Linked DNA regions of Homo sapiens. The main gene of each other region encodes a partner of the protein of the gene in region 2 in a complex. Each region holds a gene or a part of one and is shown on either strand. Other genes may lie near its edges. The genes, in order: COLGALT1 and PLOD3. A codon is read from its position in the direction of its gene.

Region 1 (4,196 bases), on a different chromosome or scaffold from region 2:
CTGGGGCCTGGGGCAAGGCCAGGACTTAGAGGTGGGGGTGGGGGCAGGGTGGAGCTGGGACCTGGGGATGGGTCATGGCTTAGAGGCGGGGCTTGAAGGTGGGGTGGAACTGGAGCCTAGGTACATGGCCAGGGCTTAGAGGTGGGGCTGGGAGGCGGAGTGGAGCTGAATCCTACGGGCGTGGCCACAGCGCTGCAGCTGAGCCTAGAGCCTGTATGTCTGGGTGTGGTCAGGGTGGCAGGCGTGGCCAACCCTTGGAAGCGTAGCAGGAGGGCTCACGTGGTTCCTGGGCCTGAAGGCACTGTCAGGGCTGTAGCCTATAGGGAAGGGCGTTGGAAGGATCACCCAGAACTCAAGGGACCTGGCCGGAAGCCTGCAGGCTTGGTCAAGGCTTAGAGACTTGACTGAGGCCTGTGGAGGTGGATGTGGCTAAAATTTGACCGGGCAGCCTGTGGGCGTGGCTGAAGAGCATGGGGGTGTGGTCAGAGCTGGAGGTGTGGCCGAAGAGTGTGGGGGCGTGGCCAGGGCGCCTGGTCTTAGACAAGCCCCTGGATGGGAGTGCCACCAACATGTTTCCAGCACTGGAGCCGTCCTTCTCTTCTGTAAGTGGGCTGGTTTGTCCTCTCCCTTCCTCCATCTCTTTTTTCCCTTCCATGTGCAGTGCCCTAATCTGCATTCTGGGAACACTGCCCCATGTGAATAGTAACTGCACCCCTCCATTCCTGACTGCCCCCCCATCAGGGCACCTCGCCCACCTCCACCCCCACTGTCCTCTGAACTCAGAGCAGCTTCAGCCTCAGAGAACGTCTGCGTGATCCTGCTCTCCCCAGCTCCAGATCCTCCATGGCTCCCTCACGCCCTTTGGAAAAACTCACTCTTCTCCCCCATGACCGCCAGACCCCTGGGCTCCTGCATTCACTCCATCCAGTCACAGAGCTCTGCAAACATGCTGAGCCTGCTCCCATCCCAGGACCTGACGGGGTAACTAGATCCCTGGCTTTCTGGGCAAGCTCCCTCCGGAGGGCGGGAGGAGAGTGACAGGCCCGATCTTGCACCCCAGCTATGTGGGCCGGAAGCGGATGCAGGTGGAGCACCCCGAGAAGGCTGTGCCTCGCGTGAGGAACCTGGTGGAGGCCGACTATTCCTACTGGACCCTGGCCTACGTGATCTCCCTGCAAGGCGCCCGCAAACTGCTGGCTGCTGAGCCGCTCTCCAAGATGCTGCCTGTGGACGAGTTCCTGCCCGTCATGTTCGACAAACACCCAGTGTGAGAGGGGCAGGCGGCTGCTGGGCTGGGGTTTCACGGTGGGTCTGTCCTGGGAGAATGGGGATGTGAGACTCACGGCCTCCGAGAAGATGTCTCTTCTTTTGCCTACTTCTCCCTCCGTTTGCCCCCTCGCAGATCTGTCTCCATTTGTATCCCCTGCACACTTACGTTTTAATCTGTCCCCGCTGACTTCTTCACCCCCAATTTTTCCTCCAGCTGTCCCGTCCCCTGAAGCCATTGCTGCCCCTCACTCCCCTCCTCCTCCCCCCAGGTCCGAGTACAAGGCCCACTTCTCCCTCCGCAACCTGCATGCCTTCTCTGTGGAGCCGCTGCTCATCTACCCCACACACTACACAGGAGACGATGGCTATGTGAGTGACACCGAGACCTCAGTCGTATGGAACAATGAGCACGTCAAGACCGACTGGGACCGCGCCAAGTCCCAGAAGATGCGGGAGCAGCAGGCACTGAGCCGTGAGGCCAAGAACTCGGACGTGCTCCAGTCCCCACTGGACAGTGCTGCCCGGGATGAACTCTGAGGGGTAGCAGCCAGAAAGCCAAAGCAGCCATCGGTGGCCCAGGCTCCACGTGCTTACTGAGGACATCAGGTCCACCTCTGGACCCCTTGGCAGGCCACAGAGGGCTCTCGTGTGGGGTGGTGTCCAGCCAGCTCTTGCTAAGCAATCACGTGCACACAGGCAGCATTAATGGAGTGCCTACTGCATGCCAGCAACAGGGCTTGGCCCTGGGGAATTGGGAGGAACCAAGCCCTCTTCATCTGTTCATGTGCCCAGCATTTATTAAGCACCTGCTGTATGCAAGGTTCCCATGTTACGGCAGTGAATGAGGCATAATTGTTCCCTCCATCAGCGATTGATTCAGTCATCAAGCAGTTACTGATCAGATTAAGAATCAGGCACTAGTGATACACATTCATTTTTAAAATTCATTCAAGGATTTATTGAGTGCCTACTGTGTGTTGGGTGCCATTCCAGGCTCTGGGATTTTTTTTTTTTTTTTTTTAAGAGTAGAGTCTGTCTCTGTCACCCAGGCTGGAGTGCAGTGGTGTGACGGCTCACTGCAGCCTGCGCCTCCCAGCGTCCAGCAATTCTTGTTTCTCGGCCTCCCAAGTAGCTGGGACTATAGGTGCGTGCCATCACATCTGGCTAGTTTTTGTATTTTTAGTAGAGACGGGGTTTCACCATGTTGGCCAGGCTGGTCTCGAACTCCTGACCTCAAGTGATCTGCCCGCCTTGGCCACCCAAAGTGCTAGGGTTACAGGCATGAGCCACTGTGCCCAGCCCAGGCTCTGGGAATATTGAGATAAATAAGATGCTTCTATCCATTTATTCAAGCACATATTGGTCACCTACTGTGTGCCTGGCACTCATGTCACAAAGATAAGTTCCTGATTCGGTACACTTACTGAGCACCTGCTGTGTGCAGGGAGCTGAGCTATGGGATGGGAATGGGAGTAAACAAGGTACTTTTTACTTTTTTCTTTTTTTCCTCACTGCTAGACGGTGTGGGAACTTCTCACTCATTGGCTTCTTTCCCACACACCTGAAGAGCACTGACTGTGTGCCGGGCACTAGTGATACAAAAGAGTGTGACAGTTGTTCAGTCTGCATTTTCGATCATGGGCTACATGCCGAGTGCTGGGGCACAGAGATGAACAAGATCGGTTCCTTCACTTCTTCATGCCACAAGTGTTTATTGAGCACCTGTGTGCCAGGCCTCACAGACTCCCAGTTGGGTTGAAGAATGGTTGACTGAGTTTGATTCTTCCTGTACCCTCGGTCGTCTGAGCTGTGTGCAGACAACATCCCCCCACCACCCAAGAGGGAGGGTAGCTCTTCCGCCACCAGGGGCAAGCACAGGTCCTGGTGGCCCCACGCCACATGTTAGCCCCCCTGGAGGGGGCGCCAGTTGGAGACGGGGGCTGGGTGTCCCTGGCCCACTCCCGGTCCCCTGTGCTTTACCTCCTTGCCCTTGTGTCTCAGGTGTGGTCCCTGCCTGCTTGATGAAGTTGCTCTGTTCAAGCCTTTGGTGGGATCATGTGTTTGGGGGCTTTTAGGGGACCCAGCTGCACTGGGGCACTGCCCGTGGCCTGGGTAGGACATTTCCCAGCAAGGGCTGGAGGAGTTGCCGTGCCTTCAGCCTGAATCGAATGTCAGAACCAGCCAGCGGTGCTTCACCCTCTTGGGGATAACTTGCTTAGTTTTTTAATAAATGTTCCTGGTTGGTTTTCACAGCAGTTTGTGGGATTTTGCTCGGCACCAAAACACTGCCCACGTTCCCCACCCCTGGATGGCCGACAAGATTTGGGAGGAAACCAGGGCAGGTGCAGTAGGGAAGCTGCCCAGTGGGGCCTGGCATGGTGGCTCATGCCTGTAATCCCGGTGCTTTGGGAGGCTAAGGTGGGCGGATCACTTGAGGTCAGGAATTCAAGACCAGCCTGGCCAACATGGTGAAACCCCCTCTCTATTAAAAGTACAAAAATTAGCCTAGTGTAGTGGGGCGGGGTGGCGGGGGGGGGGTACCTGTAATCCTCGCTACTTGGGAGGCTGAGGCAGGAGAATCGCTTGAACCTGGGAGGTGGAGGTTGCAGTGACCCAAGATTGAGCCACTGCCCTCCAGCCTGGGCGGCAGAGCAAGACACAATCAAACCAAAAAAAAAAAAAAAAAGCTGGCCAGTGGAGCTACTGTGGGGTGAGGGTGTGGTAAGAGCCCTGTGTCCCCTCATGCCATAAAACTTCCCCCAAACAGGCGGGGGACCGACAGCTCTGTCTTGAGTCAACTTCAGGATCCTTCCACATGACTTCGAATAAAGAGGGGCTGTCGTGCTTTGAGTCCCCCTAAAACAGACCTCAACATGAGGATTAGGGCTGGGCATGGTGGTTCACGCCTGTAATCCCAGCACTTTGGG
Region 2 (7,877 bases):
TGTTGGGATTACAGGCGTGAGGCACCGTGCCTGGCCTCTCTCTCTCCCCGTTCTCCCCATCCCCTGAGGCAAGTCACCAACCCCTCCACAAGCTGTTTTCCTCATCTGTACAAGAAGGATAACCAGGGACCTTCCCTTTGTTAAATGGAATCACAGAAGTAGACCGGGCACAGTGGCTCATGCCTGTAATCCCAGCACTTTGGGAGGTTGAGGCAGGCGGATCACCTGAGGTTGGGAGTTCGAGACTAGCCTGGCCACCATGGTGAAACCCTGTCTCTACTAAAAATACAAAATGAGCTGGGCGTGGTGGCGCATGCCTGTAATCCCAGCTACTCGGGAGGCTGAGGCAGAAGAATCACTTGAACCCGGGAGGTGGAGGCTGCAGTGAGCCAAGATTGGACCACTGCACTCCGGCCCGGGCAACAGAGCGAAACTCTGTCTCAAAAAAAAAAGTCCCTGGCCCGGTGCCCAGGCACAGCATGTGTGCAACAGATGCCAGACACGTTTTTGCTTCCCTTGCTTCTGGTAGTACCATCAGCACAGTGCAACTTACACAACCAGCCACTCAGACGCCTGACAAAACCACATAGAGGTGGGCTTGGATCAGCCCAGCTCCTCCAGAAGCCTCTCCCAGCTCAAGACCCCTAGCTGCAGAGGCTGCGCATCGCCCACCTGCGGCTGTCTTCCTCCTCACCTAAAGCCCCGTTGAGGTTCTGAAAGATCCGAGACTTATGATCCAGATTAAGGCTGAGTTTCTCCTAAATGGAATGAGATGCGATGGAGTGGTTAAAATGGAAGGAGTGGAAAGGACATCATTTCTCACTTTTCTCTCTCTTTTTTTCTTCTCTTGCTTTTGTTGCTTAGGCTGGAGTGCAATGGCACGATCTCAGCTCACTGCAACCTCTGCCTCCCGGTTTAATTGATTCTCTTGCTTCAGCCTTCCAAGTAACTGGGACTACAGGAGAGTGTCACCACGCCTGGCTAATTTTTGTATTTTTAGTAGAGACGGGGTTTCACCATGTTGGCCAGGCTGGTCTCAAACTCCCAATCTCAGGTGATCCACCCGCCTCAGCCTCCCAAAGTGCTGGGATTATAGGCATGAGCCACCATGGTTTTCCTTTTTTTGTGAGAGACAGAGTCTCATTCTGTCACCCAGGCTGGAATGCAGTGGTGCAAAACATCCTCAAACTCCTGGGCTCAAGTGATGGTCCCACCTCAGCCTCCCAAGTAGCTGGGATTACAGGCGTACACCATGAAGCCTGGCTAATTTTTTCTTTCTTTTTTTTTGTAGAGATGAGGTCTCAACTATGTTGTCCAGGCTGGTCTTAAATTCCTGGACTCAAGCAATCCTCCTGCCTAAGCCTCCCAAAAGTCTTGGATGACAGGCGTGAGCCACCACGCCCAGGCACACATTTTTCTCTTTGCAACCCCCTTTGCTCCCCAAATCCCATTCAGCCTGAGGCCTCCACTCCCACAGAGCTGCGGGATGCGCCCACTCCTCTGCCTTCCCTACCCTCAGTCCTGGGTCCAGGTAGAGCCGTGTGTAGAACAGCTGGTCGTCGTCATCATCCTTGTACTTCCACTGGCGCACGATTTGGTGGATGGTGGTGGCAAAACCGATGAATCCTGGCGGGGAGGGGGAGTGTTGACCTCGAGACTCCCAGGGTCCCAGGGCCTGTCCCCCAGGCTGTCTCCAGCCCTCAGGCGCCTTTAACACTCTGTGTCCCACCGCTCTTGGCCCCTCTGCCTTGGGCACTCTGCCACTCACCACCAGAATTGAGGAAGCGCTTCCCCGTGCCCACCTCAGGGTACTGCTCCGCCAGCCCCCACTCGGGCCAGCAGAAGCTCTCTGCAGAGAAGAGCAGGCGGCTGCCACTCTGGACGAACTTCTTCAGCAGCTCTGTGGGGCTGCCGGCCAGAATCACGTCGTAGCTGGGTGAGGAAGGGGAGGATGGGCAGGGGTCCACTGGGAACCTCAGCATCCTTACCCCGCTCCCTATCCCCAGCCCCGTTACCTATCCACAAACATGATGATCATATCCTCCCGGTCAGCGTATTTCTCCATTTCCTTCTTTAACCACCGGACCTTCTGTCCTCCACCAACTGTTCGAGCCACATCACCCCCTCGCCACTCCTCTCCCAGGCCCAGGGTCTGTGGAGAAGATTGCCCCGTGCCAGGCAAGGGGTGGGGAGTTGTGGGGGGAACTCCTGACCAGGCTTACCGTGGGGACCTGGGCATCCAGACTTCAGCCCACCCCTCCTGCTGGGACCCCCTCCCAGGGGCCTTTCCCTCTCCTCACCCGCACAGTGTAGTTGAAGAACTCCGCAGAGCGCAGGAAACGCAGGTACCCCTCGGTTTCAGCTGTGGCCACAGTGATCACCAGCAGCTTCTCTGTTACCAGAGGGAAATGGCACTTGAGATCCACCGCCCAGCTCCGGGCCTCACGTGCTTTGCTGTCCTCCCTCTCACTCGACTTCCCTCCCTTTCTTCCTTCCCATTCTTAAACTCTTCTCACCCAGGAACACTCTGACCCCAAGGAGGGCAGGGTGGGAGTGGTGCCCAGGAATTCCGAGTCCCTTTGCATAGGGAGGCTGGAAACCCCAGTTCAGGGTAGTGATGGGCGAGGGGCTTGGCGCGACTCAGCCTCAAGAGCACGCTGGGCGGGGGACGGGCCAGACACCTCCTCGAGCCTCCGACCCTCTCCGGGCCAGGCTGGCAGGCACGCCAGCCTCTGCCCCCTCGGCCGTGCCGGGCCTCCCCGGGATCTCACCTGGGTTGACCGGGTCTCGGCCCCGGGGCCGGTCGGAGGCTGAGGCCGCAGGGGGCAGCAGCAGCGGCAGCAGCAGCAGGAACCGGGGTCCAGGCCCCGAGGAGGTCATGGTGGGGAGCGGGCCCAGACAGCACCCAGGATCCTGGGATCTCCGCTACGCGCCTGGATCCCAGCTCCGGAGGGGAGCTCTGGAAAGGGGGCGCTCGGGCTGCTGTGCGGCCGCCGCGGGGAGCAGCTTGGCTGGGGCTACGCCCTGAAAAAAAGGCGTATCCGGAGGCTACAGAAAGCTCCAGATGCCGGCGCCACAGACAAGGCGAGGATTGTCCCGGGCGCACGGGAGGCGGGGGAGGGGCGGCGGCTCGGGCCGGCGGGCGGGAGACAGGGACTCTGGGCTGAGCCAGCCGCTTGACACATGTGGAAGCTGAAACCTGGACAGGGGAAGTGACCCCTGGCGGAGGGTCGGGCGGGACGCGGGGGCGGGTCCTGGCCGCAGCCCTGCCCAGAGAGTGCGGGCGGAAGACGGGGAGAGCGAGAGGCTGGCGGCGACAGGGAGGGAGGAAGCCTAGGAGTCCGCCGCGGGACGGAGGCCTGGGGGAACTGGGAGTTCAGCTTTCTGCAGAGGGCCACTAGGAACCTCGGATTGCCCACGGAAGCCAGCCACTTTCTTTGACAGTCCAGCCCACCTCCTCTTCTGCCCGGAGAAGCTCCAGGGGCTGCCTTTGTGATCACAGCATCTTCACAAGGACCAAAGGAAAATAAGATTTCTTGTAAGAACACCGTGACCACATCTTTAAAATGACCCATTTCGTGGCTCCCACAAGATTTACACCTCCACACTGAGGCCGGAAGTGGTTTTGCCCCTATAAAACATGGCGAAAAGCTTTCTTGTCTCCAAGGAAACGCCACGTAATGAGTCAAAGCTGTGGCGCACGCGCAGAAGTACAAGCTACCGGAAGTGATGGCGCCCCTACTAAAGCCTTGGGGTTAGTACGCGTGCGCAGCAGTTTCTTCCGACAGTTGTGTTGTGCCAATGGTGGAGAAGAAAACTTCGGGTATGTGAGCCCCCGCGGTTCGCCCCCTTCCCCTTCCCAAGTCAGTCCTAGAATTTTCTTACCTAGTCATTCCTCTTTTTTGGTCTCGCTCTTTCGCCTAGGCTGGAGTGCAGTGGCATAGTCATAGCTCACTGCAGCCTCGATTTCCTGGGATCAAACCATCCTCCCACCTCAGCCTCCGGAGTGGCTGGAACTGCAAGCATGAGGCCCCACGCCTGGTTAATTTTTAATTTGTTATGTGGTGACGGGCTCTCGCTATGTTGCCCAGGTTGGTCTCCAACTCTTGGCCTCAAAGCGATCCTCCTGCGTGGGCCTTCCAAAGTGCTGGGATTACAGGCGTGAGCTGCCGCGCCCGGCCCCAGCTATTCCTCGTAAATCCCTTCCTCAGCCCTCGGGTCCTGGCGTTGACCCTTCATTCACGTTTTATTGGTGCCTGCTCCAAGCCGGGCGCTGGGGATGAAGAGGAGAAAGACCCCTCTTATCCAAGCATTGGCTTTTTCTGGAAGGGGGGCAGAAACGCAGACCTAACACTGTATTTTACTGTGATTTGTGATTTGTGCTATGGCAGAGGGAAGCACAGCGCCTGGGAACAGGGAGACGTGGCATCTAGCCCAGGTTCTGGGAGGCAGGGGACTGTGAAAGCTTGAAGGAAAAATGAAAAAGCTTGAATTGAGTCTTGAAAGTCTAGTTAGGGTTTCTCTCAGTGGGAACCTCACGTGCAAAGGCAGTGAAGCAAGAAAAAGCAAGTCGCTTAGGAAGCCAAGTTCACAGTTTGGATCTTACAGAGTAATAAGAAAGGATCGAAGGCTGGGGAAAGGTTACATTTTGAAAGGCATTATACACACTGCCCAGGAGTTTGAACTCTGTAGGGAAACACTGGAGAGCCAGCAAAGACTTTTTTTTTTTAGACAGAGTCTTGCTCTGTCACCCAGGCTGGAATGCAGTGGTTCTATATAACTCACTGCAGCCTCAACCTCCCATGCTCAAGTGATTCTTCCACCTCAGCCACCTGAGTAGGTGGAACTACAGGTGGGTGCAGGCCACCATGCTGGGCTAGTTTTTATATTTTTTGTTGAGATGGGTGTCTCACTATGTTGCCCAGGCTGGTCTTGAACTCCTGAGCTCATGTGATCCTCCTGCCTCGGCCTTCCAAAATGCTAGGATTACAAGTATGAGCCACTGCGCTTGGCCCTTTTAGTTTTTCTTTCTTTCTTTTTTTTTCTTTTTGAGACGGAGTCTTGCTCTGTCCCCCAGGCTGGAGTGCAGTGGCGCAATCTCGGTTCACTGCAAGCTCTGCCTCCCGGGTTCACACCATTCTCTGGCCTCAGCTTCTGGAGTAGCTGGGACTACAGGCGCCCGCCACCACACCCAGCTTATCTTTTGTATTTTTAGTAGAGACAGGGTTTCACCATGTTAGCCAGGATGGTCTTGATCTCCTGACCTCGTGATCCACCCGCCTCGGCCCCCCAAAATGCTAGAATTACAGGCATGAGCCACTGCGCTTGGCCCTCTCAGTTTTTCAAAGGCATCGCAGTCTCCCAGCCATCAGTTTTTTCATGTTGGCCTCAAGGTCTGAAATACCCCGCTGTCTCCCCTAGCCAGGTCATTCACCAGTTAGGCCTTAACCTAGACTTACCTTCTTCTGGGAAGTCTTCCCTGACTACTCCAAGGCCAGGTTGGGTGTTTCTGTCCTGGGCTCTGCAGCACTTTATACTTCCGTATCCTAGCCTACTCCATGCTGTACTTACTGTGTTTGTTTCATTAATCATTTGTGTTTGCCACTGGACTGTAAGCTTTGGCATCCCTAAAACCTAGAGCACTGCCTGGCATTTGGAGGGGAGACAGAGTAGTACAGTGATCATAATCATATTTTTTTTTGTTTGGTTGGTTTTGGGTTTTTTTTTTTTTTTTTTTTTTTTTGAAACAGGGTCTTGCTCTGTCACCCAGGCTGGAGTGCAGTGGCACAAACACAGCTCACTGCAGCCTTGAGCTCCTGGGCTCAAGCAATCCTTGCGCCTCAGCCTCCTGAATAGCTGGGACTACAGGTGTGTCCCACTACACCTGGCTAATTTTTGTATTTTTTTTGTAGAAACATGGTTTTGCCATGTTGCCCAGGCTGGCCTCGAACTCCCGCGCTCAAACAATCCACCCACCTTGGCCTCCCAAAGTGCTGAGATAACAGGCATGAGCCACTGCGCCTGGCAAGGTCATGCTTTTTGATGCTGGGTAGTTCTTTGACTCCTGACCTGGCCACTTGTTAGCTATGTGAACTTTGGACACATTTCTTAATCTCTGAATGTTGGTAAATTGGGGATGATGATACTGTCCCATACAGCTGTTGTAAGGGTTAAATGGTTCAAGTGTTGCAAAGAGCTGAGCACGTGCCTGGCTCATAGTAAGTGTCCAACAAGTGATAGCTACTGGGGCTGCTGCTGTTATTATTATGCTTAACAGGTGGTTAATGAATAAAGAGATATATTATGCAAAATTATCAGAATCTGGCAAACAGCTGATAAGGCAATGAGGAAAGAGGTTTTTTGTTTTTTGTTTTTGAGACAGGGTCTCTCTCTGTTGCCCAGGCTGGAATGCAATGGCGCGATCTCAGCTCGCTGCAACCTCCACCTCCCGGGTTCAAGCGATTCTTGTGCCTCAGCCTCCCGCGTAGCTGGGATTACAGGCATGTGCCACCACACCCTGCTAATTTTTGTATTTTTAGTAGAGACATGGTTTCACCACGTTGGTCAGGCTGGTCTCGAACTCCTGACCTGAAGTGATGAGCCCACCTCAGCCTCCCAAAGTGCTGGGATTGCAGGGGTGAGCCACTATGTCCAGCCGAGGAAAGAGGTTTAAAATAACTTCTAGGTTTCTGGTTTGGATGTCTGCATAGACGGTTCCATTTGCGTAGAGAGAATCTGCAGGAGAAGCAGACTTGGATGGGAATTTTTTTTTTTTTTTGAGTTGCAGTGTCCACAGGGCCAGTGGGTGATTTCTTTTTTCCTTCTTTCTTTTTTTTTTTTTTTGGAGACAGTCTTGCTTTGTCACTCAGGCTGGAGTGGTGGCGCGATCACGGCTTGCTGCACACTGCAGCCTCAACCTCCCGGGCCCATGTAGTCCTCCCACCGCAGCCTCCCAAGTAACTGGGACTACAGGCATGTGCAACCACGCCTGGCTTATTTTTTAATTTTTTGTAGAGATGGGGTTTGGCTATGCTGCCCAGGCTGGTTTCTAACTCCTGGCATCAAGCGATCCTTTGGCCTCCCAAAGTGCTGAGATTACAGGCGTGCGCCACCACACCCGGCCTCACCAGGCGCTGGCTGCATGGCCAGTTCTGGAGCCCGGGAGCAGGTTCTGTGTTGAGGGAGTCACTCTGGGAGTCATTTGCTTGTGGGTGATCATCAGAGCCCTTTGTTTGGAGTCAAAATCCCAGGAAGAGTGCATAGACTGAGCAGAGAAGAGGGCCAGCCACCTCCATAGAGGCAGGGAGAGCAGCCGAGCTGGAGCCGGAGGATTCCTGGACATGGAGAAGGCCTGCAGTTTTGTCAAGGAAGCAAGCAAAGGGTCTCTTTCTACTCGATGAAGGTAGTCGGCACCGCCACAGGGTGGACAGGGCTCAGGTCCAAGGAGGAGGAGGAAGGCACACTGGAGCCGCTCTGGGGCCCAGAGCGTGGGTGGGTGGTCCCCCAGGATGACCAGGCAGGTGTCAGATTTTGGGGTTCAAGGAGAGGATGGGAGGTGAAAAAGTGACACATCACGTGAGTTGCTGTGAAGGAGAAGGAGCTGTGAAGCCGAGTAGACACATGAGCGTCGCCAGCTCTTTGATGGAAAGTGCCGGTTGAGGAGGAGGGGTTGAAGATGGGAGAGGGAGGGAATGGGCTGGAGGTGAAGGCTCGGGGTCAGTGGTGGGACTTGGGGCGCTCCAGGGCAGGGGTGTGCCCACTTGGCATCACGTTTGTGGGTAGGTGGCCTGGAAGATGAGCGTATCCAAGCATGGGTGGCCCCTGGTTCCTTTGAGGTAGGAGGTGAGATGCTGAGTGTGAGGGCCATGTGTATTGAG

What was found.
Region 1: the proteins of PLOD3 (region 2) and COLGALT1 are in contact, whole or in part, in a cryo-EM structure (PDB 8ZGE), measured with the Homo sapiens proteins. Residues at the interface, in NP_001075.1 of Homo sapiens: Leu226 (codon at 698), Val229, Val230, Leu231, Lys232, Phe233, Asp234, Arg235, Arg241, Gln261, Tyr264, Leu265, Pro275, Gly430, Ala431, Leu432, Arg440, Glu442, Glu446, Arg452; in NP_078932.2 of Homo sapiens: Ala36, Tyr37, Phe38, Pro39, Glu40, Glu41, Arg42, Trp43.

Annotation. Positions count from the first base shown.
Region 1 is NC_000019.10:17,579,639-17,583,834, forward strand, and holds the end of COLGALT1 (procollagen galactosyltransferase 1 precursor), read left to right. Parts: intron 1-1,060; coding exon 1,061-1,267; intron 1,268-1,538; coding exon 1,539-1,806; 3' UTR 1,807-3,519; downstream 3,520-4,196. UniProt on the Homo sapiens protein: Beta-galactosyltransferase that transfers beta-galactose to hydroxylysine residues of type I collagen. By acting on collagen glycosylation, facilitates the formation of collagen triple helix. Also involved in the biosynthesis of collagen type IV.
Region 2 is NC_000007.14:101,214,395-101,222,271, forward strand, and holds the start of PLOD3 (multifunctional procollagen lysine hydroxylase and glycosyltransferase LH3 precursor), read right to left. Parts: upstream 3,188-7,877; 5' UTR 2,881-3,187; coding exon 2,772-2,880; intron 2,393-2,771; coding exon 2,301-2,392; intron 2,153-2,300; coding exon 2,016-2,152; intron 1,933-2,015; coding exon 1,769-1,932; intron 1,627-1,768; coding exon 1,514-1,626; intron 759-1,513; coding exon 695-758; intron 1-694. Other genes in the region: ZNHIT1 (zinc finger HIT domain-containing protein 1), read left to right, coding at 4,025-4,091. UniProt on the Homo sapiens protein: Multifunctional enzyme that catalyzes a series of essential post-translational modifications on Lys residues in procollagen. Plays a redundant role in catalyzing the formation of hydroxylysine residues in -Xaa-Lys-Gly- sequences in collagens.